4 separate regions of the Homo sapiens genome follow, and regions 2, 3 and 4 are each linked to region 1. The links come from fine-mapping of genetic effects on gene expression. A gene starts in region 1. Each other region holds a variant in brackets. All regions are shown on one strand. Distances are between the middles of the regions.

What was found. PIP is the estimated chance that this variant, and not a neighbour inherited with it, causes the effect. A credible set is the group of variants that fine-mapping cannot tell apart.
Region 2: its variant is the best candidate, but not a certain one, in a credible set for the expression of CDR2L in unexposed skin (GTEx, PIP 0.53).
Region 3: its variant is the best candidate, but not a certain one, in a credible set for the expression of CDR2L in unexposed skin (GTEx, PIP 0.50).
Region 4: its variant is the best candidate, but not a certain one, in a credible set for the expression of CDR2L in lung (GTEx, PIP 0.53).

The regions. Positions count from the first base shown.
Region 1 is chr17:74,984,349-74,989,715 of GRCh38, forward strand. CDR2L (cerebellar degeneration related protein 2 like) reads left to right here and starts at 3,284. Exons shown (of 5, transcript NM_014603.3): 1 at 3,284-3,774. The coding sequence starts at 3,696. It overlaps LOC124904058 (a long non-coding RNA gene), which reads left to right. Exons shown (of 2, transcript XR_007065906.1): 2 at 1-501. RefSeq lists an enhancer at 3,122-3,623 and silencers at 3,190-3,269, 3,290-3,379.
Region 2 is chr17:75,050,132-75,055,498 of GRCh38, forward strand. It overlaps KCTD2 (potassium channel tetramerization domain containing 2), which reads left to right. Exons shown (of 6, transcript NM_015353.3): 3 at 2,883-2,974. Among named protein-coding and RNA genes, the nearest start is that of KCTD2, 5.6 kb to the left of the region's middle. The variant G/A (reference allele first, on the strand shown) is at 3,211.
Region 3 is chr17:75,032,576-75,037,942 of GRCh38, forward strand. It overlaps TRR-CCT1-1 (tRNA-Arg (anticodon CCT) 1-1), which reads left to right and starts at 1,331; the gene lies at 1,331-1,403. TRR-CCT2-1 (tRNA-Arg (anticodon CCT) 2-1) reads right to left here and starts at 1,928; the gene lies at 1,856-1,928. TRR-TCG3-1 (tRNA-Arg (anticodon TCG) 3-1) reads left to right here and starts at 2,538; the gene lies at 2,538-2,610. It also overlaps a transcript of KCTD2 not described here. RefSeq lists enhancers at 1,133-2,114, 1,511-1,590, 1,621-1,690, 2,141-2,210 and silencers at 1,851-2,020, 2,581-2,710, 3,202-3,361. The variant C/T (reference allele first, on the strand shown) is at 2,614.
Region 4 is chr17:75,015,899-75,020,898 of GRCh38, forward strand. MRPL58 (mitochondrial ribosomal protein L58) reads left to right here. Exons shown (of 6, transcript NM_001545.3): 2 at 1,180-1,216; 3 at 3,802-3,861; 4 at 4,415-4,497; 5 at 4,590-4,759. Among named protein-coding and RNA genes, the nearest start is that of MRPL58, 5.7 kb to the left of the region's middle. RefSeq lists an enhancer at 3,930-5,000. The variant A/G (reference allele first, on the strand shown) is at 2,947.

The DNA.
Region 1 (5,367 bases):
CTGGGATTACAGGCGTGAGCCACTGCACCTGGCCATGAACTTTATATAAAATGGAATCATGCAGTGCTGTGATAGAATCATAACCACTAAAGATATCCACATCCTAACCCCCAGAATCTCTGAATATGTTACCTTGCCCAACATAAGGGACTTTGCAGATGTGATTTAGTTAAAGACATTGAGACAGGGAGATTATGCTGTATTATTCAGTGTGCCCAGTTTAAGCAGAAGAGTCCTTTATAAGAGGGAGGTGGAAAAGGTAAGAGTGATGGGATGTGAAAAAGACTCCACCTTCTGTTGCTGACTTTGAAGATTGACAAAGAGGCCATGAGCCAAGGACTATGGGGTGGCCTCTAGAAGGTGCAAAAGACAAGGAAACAGATACTCCCCTGGAACCTCCAGAAGGAACACAGCTTCTACCAATGCTTTGACTTTAGCCAGTGATCCTTGTCAGACTTCTACAGAATTATAAAATAATAAATTTGTGTTGTTTCAAGCCCATTAAATTTGGGGTCATTTGTTACAGAAGCAATAAGAGACAAATACAGGTATTTACTCTTTGTGTCTGGCATCTTTCACTCAACTTTTTTTTTTTAGCCCAAGCCCATGACAGTAGATCATTGTATTTGTACTATATAACATTCCATTACATGAACATGCCACATATTCTTCGTCAACTGTTGATGGACATTTGTGTTGTTTCCAGTGTGGGCGCTTATGAATACTGTGGCTATGAACTTTCTTGTACATGTCTTTGGGATAAGGTATGTGCATATTTCTCTTGCACATATATAGGAATAGAATTTCTGGGTTATAGGGTATGCATGTATAGTGGCTGCTGTGATGTATCCCCAACTCTTTCAGAACGAAAGGACCTATTCCCTTAGCTGCTGGGAGGACCCCTGGCTGGCAGTCCCAGCTGCCAGGGCTCTGTGCAAACTAGTCTCAGCTGAAAAGAACTTATTTGGCCAAGGTCACACATGCCTCCTAGGAACGACCTGTGTCATTCAATGACTGGTTGATATGTAAGGGTGGGGGATATAAAGGCCCCCTCCCCCAATGATACCTGGAATAGCTTTGAAGGGTCACCCTGGATTCAAAGTTCTTCAGGGATCAGAGGAGGCTTTTGCAGAGGCTACATACCAACCCAGCTTCTCCCCCACCAACCCTGCTTCCCTCCCTTTCCTGCAGGTGTTGATCATGAGAGCACTCCCTAGTCAACTTTCTTTCTTTTTTCTCCCTCTAATCCAATATGATTGATATCCCTAATCAACTTCCTGCATGCTAATCTCCATCTCAGGATCAGCTGCCTGGGAACACAACCTACAACAGCTTACGTTATTCAGCTTTCATGGTTATCAAGCAGTCTTTTTTTTTTTTTTTTCCAAGACGCAGTCTTGCTCTATCGCCCAGGCTGGGTGCAGTGGCGCAATCTCAGCTCACTGCAACTTCCGCCTCCCAGGTTCAAGCAATTCTCCTGCCTCAGCCTCCCAAGTAGCTAGGACTACAGGCATGTGCCACCATGCCCAGCTAATTTTGTATTTTTAGTAGAGACAGGGTTTCACCATGTTTCCCAGGCTGGTCTTGAACTCCTGACCTCAAGCGATCCACCCTCCTTGGCCTTCCAAAGCGTTGGGAATTACAGGCATGAGCCACCACGCCCGGGCAGTTTTCTAAAGTGGTTGTCGTCCTATGTATTCCCTCCAGCAGGGTGAGAGAGTTCCAGTTGCTCAACATTCTTGCCAATACTAGGTATTTTTTGTCTTTTTTTTTTTTTTTTTTTTTTTTTTTTTGAGACAGGATCTTGCTCTGTCACCCAGGCTGGAGTGCAGTGGCATGACCACAGCTCCCTACAGCCTCAACCTCCTAGACTCAAGCAATTCTCCCACCTCAGCCTCCCAAAGTATCTGGGACTACAGCCGTGTGTCATTATGCCCACCTAATTTTTATTTTTAAATTTTTTTATAGAAATAGGATCTTGCTATGTTGCCCAGGCTGCTCTTGAACTCCAGGCTCAAGTGATCCTCCCAACCTCGGCCTCCCCAGAGTTCTGGGATTATAGGCATGAACCACCACGCCTGGCCTTTTTTTTTTTTTTTTTTTTCCCTAAAGCCACTCTGGTGATTGGGTAGTGATACCTCATTGTGGTTTTCATTTGCATTTTTCTGATGGCTAAAGAAGTTCAGTACCTTGTTGCATATTTATTCAGTTATTTGTGTATCCTTTTTTGTGAATTACCTGGTCAAATCTTTTACCCACTTTTCTACTGGGTTGCGTGCCTTTTTCTTATGACTATGCAGATGTTCTTTCTGTATTCTGGATACAAGTCATTCGTTGGGTATATCACAACATTATTCAGAGATTCTCAACGGCACCAGCACATTAGGGTCCCAATAAAAATGAGTTACGTGAATGCTTGAGTCCGAACACTCTTCTAAGGAAAGAATGCTTGGACAGATGCAAGTGTGTATAGTTTTAATGGGTATAATTGGATATAGGATATGGGTCCCAAGGAAAGGAAAACAGAACCTTGAATGCAGGTAACACACCCTCAAACTTTGCCACTTTCAGCCTGTGGTTTCTAGCCACAAGCACTTAAACACGCAGTTCCCAAAGGCAACTGTAAATTAGTATTCATTCATTCAAAGAATGTCGATGGAAGGTATCAATGACCAGCATGTTGTTTGTTTTTTGTTTGTTTGTTTTTTGAGGCAGAGTCTCCCTCTGTCGCCCAGGCTGGAGTGCAGTGGCGCTATCTTGGCTCACTGCAACCTCTGCCTCCAGGGTTCAAGCGATTCTCCTGCCTCAGCCTCCCGAGTAGGCATGCGCCACCATGCCCAGCTAATTTTTGTATTTTTAATGGAGACGGGGTTTCGCCATGTTGGCCAGGCTGGTCTCGAAACCCCTGACCTCAGGCGATCTGCCCGCCTTGGCCTCCCAAGGTGCTGGAATTACAGGAGTCAGGCATCGCGCCCGACTGGTGAGCAGCCTGTTCTAGGAAGTGAGTAGCCAGCTGTGAAAGAGAAACAATATTCTTGCTTCCAGGAGATCTAGGAGAGACGACAACTTCTAAAATAGCATAATTTTAGACATGAGACATAAACTGAATAGGTCGTAGGGGGAAGTAGGACGAAAGGGTTGATCAAGCAATTCCCAGACCAAGACACCAGGAGGGTCCCGCCCTCGGCCCCGCCTCCAGCTTTGCATACATCTCCTGATTGGTCGGCGGCGGCAGGCCCCACCCCGCGGAGCCGAGCTCCGCAAGCTGCAGGCGGGCTCCGCCAAGATGCAGCGGCGGCTCCGGTTGTCGCCGGGCGGGCCAGGAGCAGCGCGGACCCGAGCCGGGCAGGGGGCGCCCGCCACGGCACCCGCGCGCTCCTAGCGCCCCAGACCCGCCTGCGGGCCCGGATCCTCCTTGCCACTGTCCCACCCGCCGTCCCTGCCACTCCACCCTTTGTGTCGCCGCAGCCCGGTGCCCCCGGCTCTGCGGGACCCCGGCCGGGCCGGACCCTGGCAAAGCGCCAGGCCCCGCGTGGGCTCCCGGCGAGCGGTTGATGGCGAGGGGGCGCGGCGCGGGCTCTGTAGCCCGAGTTCCCGACGCTGGAGGCCCGGCCCGCCTCAGCCGCATTGTCCCGGGCCGCGCGCACCGGCCCTGAGCTGCGCCGCCGCAGCACCCGCCCGCCGCCCGCGGGGCCATGCGGAGAGCCGCCGGGATGGAGGACTTCTCCGCGGAGGAAGAGGAGTCCTGGTACGACCAGCAGGACCTGGAGCAGGGTGAGCGCGGGGGCGACCGGGACAGGAAGGCGGGGAGCGCCCGGTGACCCCTGTCCGCTTCTCCATTGTTGGGCGCTATCACCCCGGGAGGGGCTGGGCTGGACCGGGCGCGCCCGACTCGGAGGAGGGACGCGTCTGGAGAACCGGGACGTGGAGAGAGGGGGCGCTGCCGGAGAAGACGCGGACCGGACGGGCGGAGACCTGCAAAAGTGGGGGGCGGGGGGCGGTCTTCCTATTTTCCCAGACGACCGGGCATCCGTCATCCAGCTCGCCCACCCCGTCCTGGAGGCAGCAACTGCTCGGCCGCCCCTGGTATTGTTACGGGGCCTGAGCGCTAGCTAGGAGTCTTCTGAGGCCGGGAGGCGGCTCCTTCGTCATGTTTTGCTGGGAGGGTGGCTTGTGTGTAGAGGGAAGTTATCTCACGCCAAATCCAGCAGCACCCGTCCCTGACAGGAATTATGAGCTCTAAGACTCCTAGAAAGTTTCCCTAACTCGCTTCCTACTCAGGGAGAAGTGGTACCGCGTCTTTGCTGGTGAAGAAGCAGAAAGTCAAGTCTCCCATCTGCCTTCGAGAGTCAGGAGTCGCTTAGCCCTCCCCTGCCCGGTCCCCTTGCAAATGGCTCATGGTTTGGAGGGGGTCAGGTTCGGGAATCCCGGCCAGTGTGCCAGGCGAGAGACCGAATAAAGAGGGATACATCTCCGCTGCCCCCAGTTGCCATCTGAGGACAGAAAGGGCGACTGGAAGGGGGTTAGAAGCTGGTGATGAGGTGGCCGAAATGACATCACTGGGAGTGGGGGGTGGGGCTGTTGGGACAGAAAGGAAGAGGAGGCCTGCTGGAGTGGAGTCAGTTCTATCCTCTCCTCCCCTAAGATGCCTCCTTCTTGGATGGTGAGAGCTGGAAGGGGCGAGGAAACATGTCCAGGGAGAAGTGACCTTCCCATGGCCTCCAGCAAGCTGGGGGGTGTGGACATAAGTCTGCTGCAGTTTGTGCCATTGTGGCCTGCTGTGGTGTGCCCACACCCTGGTCTCCATCCACAAGGCTCCAGAGGGCTGGCTTTGCCCTGATGTGCAGCAGCTATCCGGATTCTGAAGCCCCTGACCTACTTCCCCACATGGCCAAGACTGGCTGGCAGATGAGGCTCTGTCCTTGTGCTGAGGACAAGGGTTAATCATAGCCTCAGGGGGACCAGGGTGGGACTGGGGATGCTGGACTAGGCCCTGCCATGGTCTGTGCCCTGGACTCTGGCCTCAGCCTCCTTGGCTGAAATGAGATACAGCTCCTCTCAAACACACACACACACACACACACACACACACACACACATCCACACATTGTGACAACCCCCTCTCCCATCCTGGGCAGTAAATTTTTCCATGAACACCTATTAGGCTCCCCTTAAGTACCAGACACCATCCTGGGAGCTAGGAATAGTCACAGCCCTGACCCTGAAGGTATACCCTGGCAGGTGAAGGAGGCAGGCTTGTAACTAAGTGTAGGTGGCACAGTATTTTTTTCTTTTTTCTTTTTATTTATTTATTTATTTATTTTCAGACAGAGTCTCCCTCTGTCACCCAGGTTGGAGTGTAATGGT
Region 2 (5,367 bases), 66 kb after region 1:
TAATGGGAATAGTACATACAGTGAATTCCTTGCATCCACTATCCAGCTTCAACAATTACCAACTCATGGGTGATCTTAATCTTATTTATTTTTCTTTTTTAATTTTTGTAAGTACCTAGTAGGTGTATATATTTATGGGGTACATGAGATTTTTCTTTTTTTTTTCTTCGCTCAGGCTGGAGTGCACTGGCACAATCTTGACTCACTGCAACCTCAGCCTCCTGGGTTCAAGCGATTCTCCTGCCTCAGCCTCCCAAGTAGCTGGGATTACAGGCGTGCACCACCATGCTTGACTAATTTTTTGTATTTTTAGTAGAGACAGGGTTTCACCATGTTGACCAGGCTGGTCTTGAACTCCTAACCTCAAGTGATCCACCTGCCTCAGCCTCCCAGAGTGCTGGGATTACAGGCCTGAGCCTCCGCGCCCGACCTGAGATGTTTGGATATAGGCATGCAGTGTGAAATAAGCACATCATGGAGAATGGGGTATCCATCCCCTCAAGCATTTATCCTTTGTGATACAAAAATTCAATTACCCTCTTTTAGTTAAGTATCTTTTCTAATGCCTTTAATTAAAAAAACTTTATTTTGAAGTAATTTAAAACTTCAAAATAAGCAAGAAAAGAGCAAGAATAACACAGAGAACTCCCTATATCCCAGATTAACCAATTTTCAATGTTATTTTTGTCATATTTGGGGTATGGGGAGATCTTTTTGTTGTTTTTTTAAGAGTCAGAGTCTATCTTATCTTGCCCAGGCTGGTCTCAAATGTCTGGCCTCACATGCTCCTCCTGCCTCAGCCTCCTGAGTAGCTGCGATTATAGGCATGAGCCATCATGCCCAGCTTTTTTTTTTTTTTTGAGACGGAGTCTTGCTCTGTTGCCCAGGCTGGAGTGCAGTGGCGCAATCTCGGCTCACTGCAAGCTCCACCTCCCAGGTTCACGTCATTCTCCTGCCTCAGCCTCCCGAGTAGCTGGGACTATAGGCGCCCACCACCACACCCAGTTAATTTTTTGTATTTTTAGTAGAGACAGGGTTTCACCATATTAGCCAGGATGGTCTCATCTCGATCTCCTGACCTTGTGATCTGCCTGCCTCAGCCTCCCAAAGTACTGGGATTACAGACATGAGCCACCGCGCCCGACCTTTTTTTTTTTTTTTTTTTTTTTTGGCGACAGAGTCTCCCTCTGTTGCCCAGGCTGGAGTGCAATGGCACTATCACAGCTCACTGCGACATCCACCTCCCGGGTTCAAGCGATTTTCCTGCCTCAGCCTCCTGAGTACCTGGGATTACAGGTGCATGCCACCACGCCTGGCTAATTTTTTTATTTTTGGTAGAGACGGGGGTTTCACCATGTTGGTCAGGCTGGTCTTGAACTCCTGACCTCGTGATCCACCCGCCTTGGCCTCCCGAAATGCTGCGATTACAGGCGTGAGCCACCATGCCCGACCTTTTTTTTTTTTAAATCATATTTGCATTGTCCTTCATTCTCTATTTCCCCCTCCCTACCCCCATCCTCTTGCCTCTCCCACCACAGTTATTTCTGAACTATTTGAGAATAGATTGCAGATTTCACCCCTTAATATTTGTATATATTTCCCAAGAACAAGGATACTGTTTTATGTAACCACAGACAGTACAGTTATCAAACTCAGGAAATTTAATACTGATGCTTTTATCTACAGCTTATATTGCAGTTTTGTCAGTTGTCCTAATAATGGCCTTTATAGCAAATTTATTCCTATAGGATCACACGTCTCATAGTTGCCCTAAGGCCTTTGAGTTCATTTAGCATGCAAGTCTTTAAATGGTTGCCTTTTATATTGTTCAAATGATTAGCATCCTATTAAGTTTGGCCCACATAAATTTGTACACACACCTCCACCCCCACCCCCAGTCCTTTTGAGGGCAGATTGGACAAAAATATCAAGTTCAGGAGGTGTCCAACATGACTAGTTCCAGGAACTAAGTGACATATGGGAAAAGTGTCCTGCAGCTAATGGGCAGGTGCCAGGTAGGGAAAGGAGGGTTGAAATGGAGTGAGCAGAACATACCCTGGCGTTTGACTAATTTATGTTGGAGAAAAGGTCATGGGTTTACCGAAAATAGCAAAGAGATATTTCCTAGCAGAAGGAGAGAGATTGGATTTGCATTTAAATAATGCAGTTTTTAGGCCAGGAGCTGTGGCTCATGCCTGTAATCCCAACACTTGGAAGGCCAAGGTGGGCGGATCACTTGAGGTTAGGAGTTTGAGACCAGCCTGGCCAACATGGCAAAACCCCGTCTCTGCGAAAAATACAAAAATTGGCTGGGTGCGGTGGCTTTACGCCTGTAATCCCAGAACTTTGGGAGGCCAAGGCAGATGGATCACCTGAGGTCAGGAGTTCAAGACCAGCCTGACCAACATGATGAAACCCTGTCTCTACTAAAAATACAAAAAATTAGCCAGGCGTGGTGGCAAGCGCCTGTAATCCCAGCTACTTGGAAGGCTGAGGCAGCAGAATCTCTTGAACCCAGCAGGCGGAGTTTGCAGTGAGCCAAGATCATGCCATTGCACTCCAACCTGGGCAACAAGAATGAAACTCTGTTTCGGGCGGGGGGAAAAAATAGAAACAGCCGGGTGTGGTGGTATGTGCCTGTAGTCCCAGCTACTTGGGAGACTGAGGCAAGAGAATCATTTGAACGCAGGAGGCGGAGGTTGCCGTGAGCCAAGATCGCACCACTGAACTCCAGCCTGGGCGACAGAGTAAGACTCCGTCTCAAAAAATAAGTAAATAAATAAATAAGCAGTTTTTAGCAAGCATGTAACCTTCATCCTCTCCTTGGTGTTTTTCTGGCAAACCCTCGCACCTATCTGACTGCAGTTTTGTCCTTGTTCCAGGTGTGCTGGAGGAAGCGGAGTTTTACAACATCGCGTCCCTTGTGCGGCTGGTTAAGGAAAGGATACGGGACAATGAGAACAGAACTTCACAAGTAATGTATTTGGAACTGTTAAGGAGGGTTGTTTCAAGTGGGCTTCTGTCGGTCGGTCTGTGATTTGAAAAGGATGCCTTTACCCTTAGAGCTGGAGGTGTGTGTGGAACACCGTTTGCAGTGCAGGGAATGCACACTCAGCCAAACTGCACAGGAGAAAAGAAGAAACCACAAAGAAAACAGAATAGGCCTATGTCCCAATAGAATGAGAAGATTGTCGCTGCTTACCAGATGGC[G/A]GGAGGAGGCGCCCAGGGCACTTTAGGTCTAAAACCTGTTCTCTGCCCGAGTATGTCTCCCTCCTAAAGACCATAGAGGTCTTGGTTGCACCCGTTGGCCGCTCTTTTTTTTTTTATGAGATGGAGTCTCGCCCTGTCGCCCAGGCCGGAGTGCAGTGGTGCAATCTCGGCTCACTGCAACCTCTGCCTCCCAGGTTCAAGTAATTCTCCTGCCTCAGCCTCCCGTGTAGCTGGGACTACAGGTGTGTGCCACCACGCCTGACTAATTTTTGTATTTTTTTAGTAGAGATGGGGTTTCACCATGTTGGTCAGGCTGGTCTCGAACTCCCGACCTCAGGTGATCTGCCCGCCTCAGCCTCCCAAAGTGCTGGGATTACAGGCGTGAGGCACTGCGCCCAGCTTGGCCACTCTTTATGGAGATGAGCCTTTAGCATGTGATCGAGTCACATGCAGCTCCTGTGAGCCACTTGAAACCAGTCTCATGGGGTACGCTTCAGCAGCTGCTTGTGAACCATGCTTTTTTTTTTTTTTTTTTTTTTTTTTGAGACAGAGTCTCACTCTCTCCCCCAGGCTGGCCTCCCAAAGTGCTAGGATTACAGGAGTGAGCCACCACACCCAGCCTGAACCATGCTTCTAAGAACATAATATCAAGCTGCTCTTTATGATGGTGTCTTGATTTTGGCGGGGAGAGGGAGGACAAGGTCTCACTCCCGTTGCCCAGGTTGGAGTGCAGTGGCGTGATCACAGCTCACTGCAGCCTTGGCTTCCCAGGCTCAGGTGATTTTCCTACCTCAGCCTACCGAGTAGCTGGGACTACAGCTGCAAGCTACCACACCTGGCTAATTTTTTGTATTTTGGGTAGAAACGAGCCTTGTTGGCCAGGCTGGTCTCAAACTCCTGAACTCAAGCAACCCGCCCACCTCATCCTCCCAAAGTTCTGGAATTACAGGTGTGAGCTACCGCACCTGGCCTTGATTTTGATATTAACTCAGATACAGTAACAAGAGCGAAAGGGAATTTGCCCACCTAGTTAGAGGAAAGAAAGATGTTACGGCACATCTATTTCACATCCTGCCATTCGTCATATGTTTGTCGTGTGTTTGAATGGCCATAATAGCTTCTATTTGGCCCTTGGGATTCTGTAAGTAATTGAAAGTCCTTGCCCTCAAGAAGCTTGAAGTCGGCCGGGCGCGGTGGCTCACGCCTGTAATCCCAGCACTTTGGGAGGCCGAGACGGGCAGATCATGAGGTCAGGAGATCGAGACCATCCTGGCTAACACGGTGAAACCCCGTCTCTACTAAAAATACAAAAAAAATTAGCCAGGCATGGTGATGGGTGCCTGTAGTCCCAGCTGCTCGGGAGGCTGAAGCAGGAGAATGGTGTGAACCCAGGAGGCGGAGCTTGTAGTGAGCCAAGATCGCACCACTGCACCACTCCAGCCTGGGCGACAGAGGGAGACTCCATCTCAAAAAAAAAAAAAAGAAGCTTGAAGTATAGCCAGGAAAATAGACCCTCTCTTTCATGCGATTAGACTGTTTTAAGAAACTGCAACTACAGAGTTAACAGTAAGAAGGCAGAGTCGTGCTCCACCATGACTACCTGTGTTGTAGCATAATTGCCTCTTTTCCCATCAGATACTGGTAGTAGATGCTTTAGGTATAATCTATTGCAGCACAGAATTTTCCTGCCATTAAGAAGGCAGGAAAATTATTCTTTTTTCTTCTTTTTTTGAGGCAGAGTTTTCCTCTGTCACCCAGGCAGGAGTGCAGTGGCATGATCTCGGCTTACTGCAACCTCTGCCTCCCAGGTTCAAGCGATTCTCATGTCTCAGCCACCTGAGTAGCTGTGATTACAGGTGTGTGCCACAATGCCTGGCTAATTTTTGTATTTTTAGTAGAGATGGTGTTTCGCCATATTGACCAGGCTGGTCTTGAACTTCAGGCCTCAAGTGATCCACTTGCCTCAGCCTCCCAAAGTGCTGGGATTACAGGCATGAGGCACCATGCCTGGCATAAGTTTACTTTTAAAAGTAAAAAATAATGCCTTGGTCTTTCTATGTTAGATTTCATATATCAAAGTTTTCTGGCTCTAGGCCAGGTATGGTGGCTCACGCCTGTAATCCCAGCACTCTGGGAGGCTGAGGAGGGCAGATCACT
Region 3 (5,367 bases), 48 kb after region 1:
GTGTGGTTTTGCCTTCGAGGAGGGGTGCCCAGTGGTGATGCCCAGGAGAGGGAATGGAAACCTGGAGCTGGGAGTGAGGTTAGAGCTGTAAGATCCAAGACCCAGGGAGACAAGAGGACCCTGGGGACGAATAGGAACAGCTGAGCAAGGCAAGGCTGAGCCCCGGGCGGGCGGGTTGGGGGAACATGCCTAGCTAGAGGGCGGCAGCAGGAAAGCAGAGAAGGCATCCCTGCAGGTTGGCCCTGGGGCAGAGTGCTGGATCCCAGCAACGGACAAGTTAGTTAACTTAAAGGGGGGCATCCTCAAGGCAGTAAACTGGAGCCAAGTGGGTTAAATCCTTCTTGCTGCTATTAAGGGGAGGAGACAGGTTTCTGCAGACTCTACATTTTGGAGAGAAACAGAAAAGAATGTCCCCAAGTCTCCTTTGCCCTGCGATGCTGGGGCAGATTGGCAAGGTCCCAAGAGAAGCACAATGGTAACCGACGCTGCCCTTGGCTGAACTTCTTCTGTTAAATCCTTCGGATGTGAGTAGACTTTTATTTAATAATTTTTTTTCTTTTTTTTCTTTTTTTCAAATGAGACTGCATCTCGCTATGTTGCCCAGGCTGGTTTTGAACTCCTGGGCTCAAGCAATCCCCCCACCTCACCCTCCCAAAGTGCTGGGATGCTGGGATTACAGGCGTGAGCCACCGCACCCGGTCTGTAGCCTTTAATAATGGATTTTAAATGTGTGTAACATTTTAAAATGTGCTTATTCTTTGTTAGAATTAGGGTGAAATATCTACTTGGCTGATTTTCCTTTCTATCTATACTTGTAGTATCTAGTATATATATATTTCTACTATTACAACTGGAAGAACTTGTTCCCCCTGGTTGTACATTCCCTCATGATAAGCAAGATTTTCAGTGTTTATGTTTCAATATTCATGATTAATACTTGTCTGTTCTCCTTCACTTCCTACGCTACTTTTTCCTAAAATTCCTGGATTTTTTATCAGTTCTGTAGAGGCGGACAGCAAGGCTCAGGGCGGTAGGAAGGAAACTCCTCCAAACCTCAGTCTTCATACCCCATGGTCCGGGTGTCCAGGCAACCACCAAGCGGACCCTCGGGGCTCCATGGGGCGTCCCAGTGCCGGGGGCTGGGGGCTGGTGCTCGCTAAGTAAGGATGGGGGCAGGTCCCTGCGCACCGCGGTATCTTCCCGCCCGCTCACCAAAAGTGCGCGCGGCAGGGACGGACCCACTCCATGGATCGCGCCTCTGTCAGGCCTTCTCTAGGAAAAGGGGACACTCGCTTATGAGGGGAAGGGATGGCACGGCCACGTGCCCCAAGCCCCAGTGGCCTAATGGATAAGGCACTGGCCTCCTAAGCCAGGGATTGTGGGTTCGAGTCCCACCTGGGGTAGAGGTGAAAGTTCCTTTTACGGAATTTTTTATTTCTTTTCTCTTCCCTTCTCAGGGATGCTGGAATCGACCTTGGTCTCTAGTTCGACTCCCGTGCAACGTGTTGAGGAGGAGCCACCTCCTCCAAGCGCCTAAAGCCGGTAAGCTCGGGTCTTGCCAAGCCCTTGAATGAACAGCTTTCGTCCGGGTAGGGCCCCACAATTTCGAAGCTGGGGAAACTCGTAAGAATAAAGTTGCCCAAAGGGTTCCCAGGACACCCCAGCTCCACCTGGCGGGGCAGCCCCGGAGAACCAGAGGTAAATGACCACCGCGACTGCAAACAGAGGGTCCTGCAAGAGAAGGCGAGGGGCGCAAACAGGGCAGAGGCAAGCAGGTAGCGGGCAGGTGGTGGTGGATTCTGAGGTCTCTGGCTGCCGGCACCAAAAGAAACCTTGCGAGCACAGCCCCTCTCGACACCCCAGGTGGGACTCGAACCCACAATCCCTGGCTTAGGAGGCCAGTGCCTTATCCATTAGGCCACTGGGGCGCGGTAAGACGCTAAACCCACGTGCTCCTTGATAGGTGTTCAACCATAGTGCCCAAACACGGCCCTGCTGTGGGTCACCGCGCTCCAAGCCTGAGAAGCCATGGGGACGACAGGATGAACCGCTGGCTGGGCGCGGCGTCCCCACCGGGCTACACAAGAGCTCCATGCGGTGACGACGCGCGGGGACCAGGAGCCCGCGGTGCCCTGTAACCCCGAGAAGAAGTGCTCGGCGAGCGCAGAGGCCGGTGGAGCATAGCTGGGAGGAATAGGGATGGACGAGGGCGGAGGGAAGAACAAACCCTCAAACTATGCTGGGATTCGGGCAAGGGCTGCTCGCTCCAAAAGAGCCCGACCACAAAGGAACCCTCAATCTTATGATCTGACGTCAGACGCCTCATCCCTTAGGCCACGCGGTCGCAATTCCCAGGGAGGCTCAGAGACTAGTCCAGGTGCCGCTCCGCTCGGGGGTGACTAGGCGGGCGGCTGGGGCCAGAGGAAGGGTGAGCGCTTCGCTCAACAGGCGGCCAGGGTGCGAGCAGTGAAGCTGCGGCACGCCGGAGCGTTTAATGGCCATCAAATTGGCCTCTCTAGGAGGTAGCTGCAGCCGGAGACCGCGTGGCCTAATGGATAAGGCGTCTGACTTCGGATCAGAAGATTGAGGGTTCGAGTCCCTTCGTGGTCGGAA[C/T]GTTTTAATCCCTGCAACTATAATCTTCCCTCCCTTGTTTTAGACCCAGAAACGCCTCCCAATCCCTCCACACCGCGGCTCCCGGGATCCGAAGCTGGGGAGCTGCTTCTGTCCAATCAGGCTTTGCATCCCGGGACGCTTCCGGTTATGGCGTCATTATGCAGCCAGGGTAAGTAGGGCCCCATTTCTTGTTGTCTCTCTTGAGCTGGTACCTGGAACGAGTTCAACATCCAAACATTCGCCTCGTAAACGTGCTCTACAAGCTACAATCCCACAAGCAAATGACACGGAGCGGGTTATGTTTCAGTCTATCGTTATGAAGTTAAACAGCAGACAAAACTCCAGTCTCTGGCCGGGCCCAATGGCTCACGCCTGTAATCCCAACACTTTGGGAGGCTGAGGCGGGCGGATCACGAGGTCAAAGTTCGAGACCCGCCTGACCAACATGGTGAAACCCCGTCTCTACTAAAAATACAAAAATACAAAAATTAGCCGGCCAATCGTGGTGGCACGCGCCTGTAAACCCAGCTACTCAGGAGGCGGAGGCAGCAGGAGAATCGCTTGAATCCAGGAGGCCGAGGTTGCAGTGAGCCGTGATCGCGCCACTGCACTCCAGCCTGGGCAACAGAGCGAAAGCCGTCTCAAAACAAACAAACAAACAAACAAACAAAAAACTCCAGTCCCTAGCCTCAAGGGCAGTGGGGGTGCTGCCCAACTCTGTGGCCTCAGTCCTGCTAGTGGGCTCTGTCCACACTCACACGGCACCCACCACCCCACTACTCTGTGCTTGGAGGAAGAGGGTGTCAGGATGCATGTGTGTGCAAGTGTACTTGGACATAGGGGAGAATAAATGCTAATTTTTTTTTTCTTTTTCTTCTTCCCTGAGACGGAGTCTCGCTCTGTCACCCAGGGTGGAGTGCAGTAGCGTGATCTCGGCTCACTTCAAGCTCCACCTCCTGGGTTCACGCCATTCTCCTGCCTCATCCTCCCAAAGTGTTGAGATTACAGGCGTGAGCCACTGGGCCCGGCCAGGGAATGGAGTTTTGTCTGCAGCAGACAAACAAGCTGGGGCTACAGGCGCCCGCCACCACACTGGCTAATTTTTTGTATTTTTAGTATAGACGGGGTTTCACCGTGTTAGCCAGGATGGTCTCAATTTCCTGACCTAGTGATCCGCTCACCTCGGCCTCCCGAAGTGTTGTGATTACAGGCGTGAGCCACCGCGCCCTGCCCAATTACCTTTTTAATGTAAAATTAATGCATGTACAACGCAAAAATGCTGAACAATCCAAGAGGGCATAAAAAATAAAAGTACCCCCTTCCCACCCACGTGCCTTTAGCTGAGCCTGTTCCCAGTTGTTTGTTCACTGTTATTTAGCACAGGGAATCTCCCAAAGGGCTCCCCCTAATGCTGGGGTTGCCCCCTTCACATCCCAACACCTTCACGGGGCTCAGCGGTGCTCTCCTTGAACAGCGCGAGCTCTAACTATGCTCCAAGTAAACTGCATTTTTTCTCACATCCCTGCGCTTTCACTTGGCTGTCGTCTGCATCCTCAGATCCTCAGCGGGATGGCTGAGTGCCAGTTCAGTGACTGCAGTCTCGCAGGGGAAGGGTGTGGTACTTCTGTTACGCACATTAAAGGCCTTGCACAGCTACCGCTCCTCATCTCTGCCCAGTCTTCTTGTTGACTCAAGCAGTTTTGGGGGGAGTAGACTCCGCCCCTCCGCTGCCTTTCATCTTCAACCCGGCCTTACTCCTACCAATCAGGAGCCATGCACCCAGGCTCTCCTCTGCTTATGTTAAGACTACGCTGATTTCTCGAGGGTTGTCAGGCATTGTTGCTCTTCTCCAATATACTCCGCCTGCAAAAATGGGCCAGGTGCGGTGGCTCACGCCTGAAACCCCAGCACTTTGGGAGGCCAAGGCGGGCAGATCACGAGGTCAGGAGATCGAGACCGTCCTGCCTAACACGATGAAACCCCGTCTCTACTAAAAATACAAAAAATGAGCGGGGCGTGGTGGCGGGCGCCTGTACTCCCAGCTACTCTGGAGGCTGAGGCAGGAGAATGGTGTGAACCCGGGAGGCAAAGGTTGCAATGAGCAGAAATCGTGCCACTGCACTCCAGCCTGGGCGACAAAGCAAGATTCCATATCAGAAAAAAAAAAAAAAAAAAAGAAATGGCAGAAATGTCACAAGTCTCCCCTGCGTAGACCATGCAGACTTTTCCTACAGGATTTAAGCCACATCAAGTCAGCCTTTGCTTACTTTCTTACCTAGAAACTTCCCAGGTTATCTCATTTAATTCTCATTACAATCCTGATATTTGTAAATGAGAAAATTAAATTCTCAAGACAGTAAACAATCTAAAATCAGCAATTGGGTTGTAGGCATAACAGGTCCTCTGACTTTAAGGACAATTCTTTCTACCACCATACTTTTTTCTTTAAATACTTGCATTACTCTATGATCTACTACCTTGCTTTAAACCATCTCTATTGCCTGACGTTGCTCAGGTCTGCTAACCATAGTAAATAGTGGGGATTTTAAAAATTAAGTTAAAATAATTCTCCATGTTCAGGCTGGATGCAGTGGCCCACGCCTGTAATCCCAGCACTTTGGGAGGCTGAGGCGGGCGGATCACAAGGTCAGGAGATCGAGACCATCCTGGCTAACATGGTGAAACCCCGTCTCTACTAAAAATAAAACAAATTAGCCGGGCGTGATGGCGGGCACCTGTAGTCCGAGCTACTCA
Region 4 (5,000 bases), 31 kb after region 1:
CTCAGCCTCCCCCAGTAGCTAGGATTACAGGTGTGTGCCACCATGCCTAGCTAATTTTGTATTTTTAGTAGAGGGGAGGTTTCACCATGTTGTCCAGGCTGGTCTCCAACTCCTGACTTGAAGTGATCCACCCGTCTCGGCCTCCCAAAGTGCTGGGATTACGGCGTGAGCCACTGCACCCGGCCAACTCCCAAATAATTCTAAGATAAAAGAAATGAAGACAGGCTGGGCGTGGTGGCTCACGCCTGTAATCTTAGCACTTTGGGAGGCCAAGGCGGGCAGCTCTCTTGAGGTCAGGAGCTCGAAACCAGTCTGGCCAACATGGTGAAACCCCATCTCTACTAAAAATACAAAAAAAAAAAACAACAATAGCTAGGCATGGTGGCATGCGCCTGTAATCCCAGCTACTCAGGAGGCTGAGGCAGGAGAATCACTTGAACCCAAGAGGCGGAGGTTGCAGTGAGCTGAGATCGCACTATTGTACTCCAGCCTGGGCTACAGAGCGAGACTCCATCTCAAAAAAAAAAGAAATGAAGGCAGTCGGGAGTGCACCTGAGGATACTGATGCTTTGAGCCTGGAGGGCCAGAAAAGCCTCGGAGTGGGTGGCGTTTGCACTGGGCCTTGTGGATACAAAGATTTAAGGCTGAAGGGCGTTGCTGCTTGAGGAACAGCAAGAGAGAGAGAGACATGGAGGTGAGAAGTCCTGGAGTGAGTAGTTAGTTTGACAGAAACCCTCAGGGTGCAATTATAGTCACTGTCCAAGGTGGACTGCCTTGTGTGGGAGTCTCCTGTGGCCCCGGAAAGAACAGGGTGGCCCACCAGGCTTGTTGCTCCAGGTTGACAGAGGGTGTTGCTTTTGGAGGTTCCCTGATGCATGTGCACTGTGGCTCCCCCTCCCGCTGGAGCCAGGCCTCTGATGGTGCCTGACACTAGCTAAGGCTAGGGCAGGGAAGGCTGGAGACATCAGATCCATTTTCGTAGAGGAGTGTTTCTGAGGTGGTACCTCTGGAGTCTGAGGATGCTTTTTCTGTCATCGTGATATCATTTTGCAGGGGACCTGAAAATACTAATGTACAATGTTTGTGTTGTGGCTTTACATCATTTCTTTGTTGCCTTGAACCAGTTAGGAGTCACCCAGCAGGTAATATTTATTTGACACTGTGTACATTACATTACAGAATGGTGCAAAGCAAGCCGACAGTGACATCCCTCTAGGTAAGTAATTTTGTTTTCTTAAAAATCAGTTGGCTGCGTGGTGGCATGTGCCTGTAATCCCAGTTACTTGGGAGGCTGAGGCAGGAGAATCGCTTGAACCCAGGAGGTGGAGGTTGCAGTGGGCCGAGTTTGTGCCATTGCACTCCAGCCTGGGCAACGAGAGCAAAACTCTATCTGGAAAAAATTAAAAATTAAAAAAAAAAAATCATGCCTGTTGGCCGGGCATGGTGTCTCATACCTGTAATCCCAACAATATGGGAGGCCAAGGTGGGTAGATCACTTGAGGCCAGGAGTTTGAGACCAGCATGGCCAACATGGTGAAACCCCATCTCTACTAAAAATACAAAAATTAGGCCAGGCGCAGTGGCTCACGCCTATAATTCCAACATTTTGGGAGGCCAAGGCAGCTGGATCATCCGAGGTCAGGAGTTCAAGACTAGCCTGGCCAACATGGCAAAGCCCCATCTCTACTAAAAATACAAAATTAGCCGGGTGTGGTGGCGAGGGCCTGTAATCCCAGCTACTTGGGAGGCTGAGGCAGAAGAATTGCTTGAACCCGGAAGGCAGAGGTTGCAGTGAGCTGAGATCCTGCCATTGCACTCCAGCCTGGGCAACAGAGTAAGACTCTGTCTCAAAAATAAATAAATAAAAATACAAAAATTAGCCGGGTGTGGTGGTGGGCGCCTGTGATCCCAGCTACTCGGAAGGCTGAGGCACAAGAATCACTTGAGCCTGGGAAGCAGAGGTTGTGGTGAGTTGAGATCGCACCACTGCACTCCAGCCTGGGCGACACAGCGAGACTCTGTCTCAGACGAAAAAAAAAAAATCAGTCATTTCTCTAATCCTTCACACATTCCTTCCAGATCTCTCCAGCCCAATTAAAGTAAAGAGACTATCTCGGGTGTGCAGAAGTAGAATCTTTGCAGCATTATTTAGAATAGCAAATAAATGATGGTGTGGCCAGTCGCATCGTACTGTGCCGTGTGCCACGTGAGTGTAGAGCTCTTGACATTCTCATGACGTGGAGCACTCTTTACAATAGATGAATTGAAAGAGGAAGACACAGGAGAGTTTATAAGCTACCATTTGTTTTTTACATATCTATATCTCTGAAATATCTTTTTTTTTTTTCTTTGAGATGGAGTCTCGCTCTGTCACCCAGGCTGGAGTGCAGTGGCCCGATCTCGGCTCACTGCAAGTTCCGCCTCCCAGGTTCACACCATTCTCCTGCCTCAGCCTCCCGAGTAGCTGGGACTACAGGTTCCCACCACCACGCCCGGCTAATTTTTTGTATTTTTTAGTAGAGACGGGGTTTCACCATGTTAGCCAGGATGGTCTCGATCTCCTGACCTCATGATCTGCACACCTCAGCCTCCCAAAGTGCTGGGATTACAGGTGTGAGCCACCGTGCCCAGCCTGAAATATCTATTTCTGAATATCTGTATCTATATTTATATCCCTATCTGTGTAGAGAGATATCTATATCTGAAAGGAACACCCTGGATACAGTGACTGCCTGGAGGAATAGAGAGATAAGACAAACTTGGTGGCTGAGAGACAAGAGTGAAAGACATTTCCATGTAAATAAACCATTTACATAACTGTAAAATTTTTTACCTGTCAAGCATAAGCAAGGCCTAACAGTTACAGCCTGTAAAGAAACAATGAGCCTTTTTTAGATTCGGAGAGTGTATGACTTCCATAGACAGTGCGAGGAAGAGCAGCCAAAG[A/G]TGCTGGCTCCCTGTGGCCCTTGCTCAAGATGACTCAAACAGAGGCCAGATGACCACAACCCAAGGGACAGGACACCCTGTGGCTGAGGAGCGAATACCATGCTGCAGTGAAGCAGTTTTGTAGCTTGAAGCTGTGCCCGCCTGTAGTCTCAGCTACTTGAGAGGCTGAGGTGGAAGGATCCCTTGAGCCCGGGATGTTCGCTTCAGCCTGGGATGTTGAGGCTGCAGTGAGCCGTCATTGTGCCACTGGACTCCAGCCTGGGTGCCAGAGTGAGACCCTGTCTCAAAAAAAAAAAAAATGAAGCTGTGCCCTAAGGGGTGCATGTGTGTAGGGGAGGAGGCAGAAAGCCTCCTATCTCATCAGAACTGGAGGCGAAGAGAAGTGTCTTGTGACAGCCTCCTAGGGGGAGACAGGCAGGCAAGTGGGCAGTAGCTCGGTAGTAGCTCCTCACCAGCCTCCCACACTCTCATGGATCCCGAAGCGTTCCATTCCTATGAAGACTTTGGTCAGCTGCAGCTCAAGCTTTGGCCATGTGCAAGGTTGCCAGCAATCACCATGGCAGAACTGTTCCCCTGCAGTGGCACGTGTACTTGTTACCTAGTCAGAAAGTGGATTTAATTTGATTTTTCCAAAGGAGGAAATCCTCTTAAAAGCAGTCCCAAGATGAGTCACTACTGCTCACTGGGACCAGCTCTCTGCCACCGTGGTGCCACAGTTCCTTGCCACCCAAACTTCTTGCAGTTTTTGAAATTTTCCCAATATAATACCTTCCCTACATTCCTCAGACACAACAAGACTGCTTTTCATGCCATGAGGTAATCAGTTTTGTGTGTGTACTTTCTTCTGTTTTACAGATCGCTTGACAATATCTTATTGTCGGAGTAGTGGTCCTGGGGGGCAGAATGTGAACAAAGGTACGGGGTGCCTTGTTGCTTTCTTTTGCTTTAAAATGTAGCTGGGAGATGGGCTTGAGGAGCTCTGTGTTTGTGTTCATATGGAATAAAGGGATTTTTCAGCAGAAGCTTTAATACTGCCAGCTTATAATAATCCTCTTTATTCTTTTGAATGTGGTCTGATTCTCAGACATTCAGCTGTGGGTTGCTAGGACTAGGATCGGCTTGTGAGTCTAAACAAAGAGAAATCACAGTTGTGAGGTGGCAGCCAGCTCCAAGAACAGGTTTCTTTCATTCTGGTGCAACCCATTCCCTCCATTTTTTTTTTTTTTTTTTTTGAACCCAGTAAAACTGTAAGAGAAGGACTGGGTGCTTAGTTACTGGAAGTCTATTTTTGCCCAAAAGTGCCTCACTGTCTTTGCGGGCTTGTTCATAGCCAACTTGGACATAGGCTACAATGTACATGGTTAGGTGTCTGGCCTCCCTTTATTTCAGAATGGTCACTGGTCACCCAGGGGTTGATCCTTCCTGGAAGTCTCAGGCACCCATGCTCCCTTCTCCCTTTCCTCCACAGTGAATTCCAAGGCAGAAGTCAGGTTCCATTTGGCAACTGCCGAGTGGATCGCGGAGCCCGTGCGGCAGAAGATAGCCATCACGGTAACCACCATCCCTTTCTTTCCCTAGAAATCCCTCAGTGGCTTTTAAACCTTTACTCTGTAGGACTCCAGTTTTTCATTTGTTCTCTGCAGCATAAAAACAAGATCAACAGGTTAGGAGAGTTGATCCTCACCTCTGAGAGCAGCCGCTATCAGTTCCGGAATCTGGCAGATTGCCTGCAGAAAATTCGAGACATGATCACTGAGGCCAGCCAGACACCGAAGGAGCCAACAAAAGAAGATGTTAAACTTCATAGAATCAGGTACCAGGAAATGCCCTAAGATGCTATAAACTGATTTGTGTGGACAAGAGTCTACACAGGTAAGGAAGGGGCAGGGGAGAGTCCAAGGCCGGCCTTGGGAGAAACTCTAGGAAGAGGAGAGGATGCTGACCTGGGACCGAGGCCTGCGGGCTAGTGCCTGCTGGTGTAACTGCTCGGCTTCCCGTTGAGCTCCCAACTCCTCTCACCACTTTGAAAAGCACTGATTGGGCATCTGGGGCTA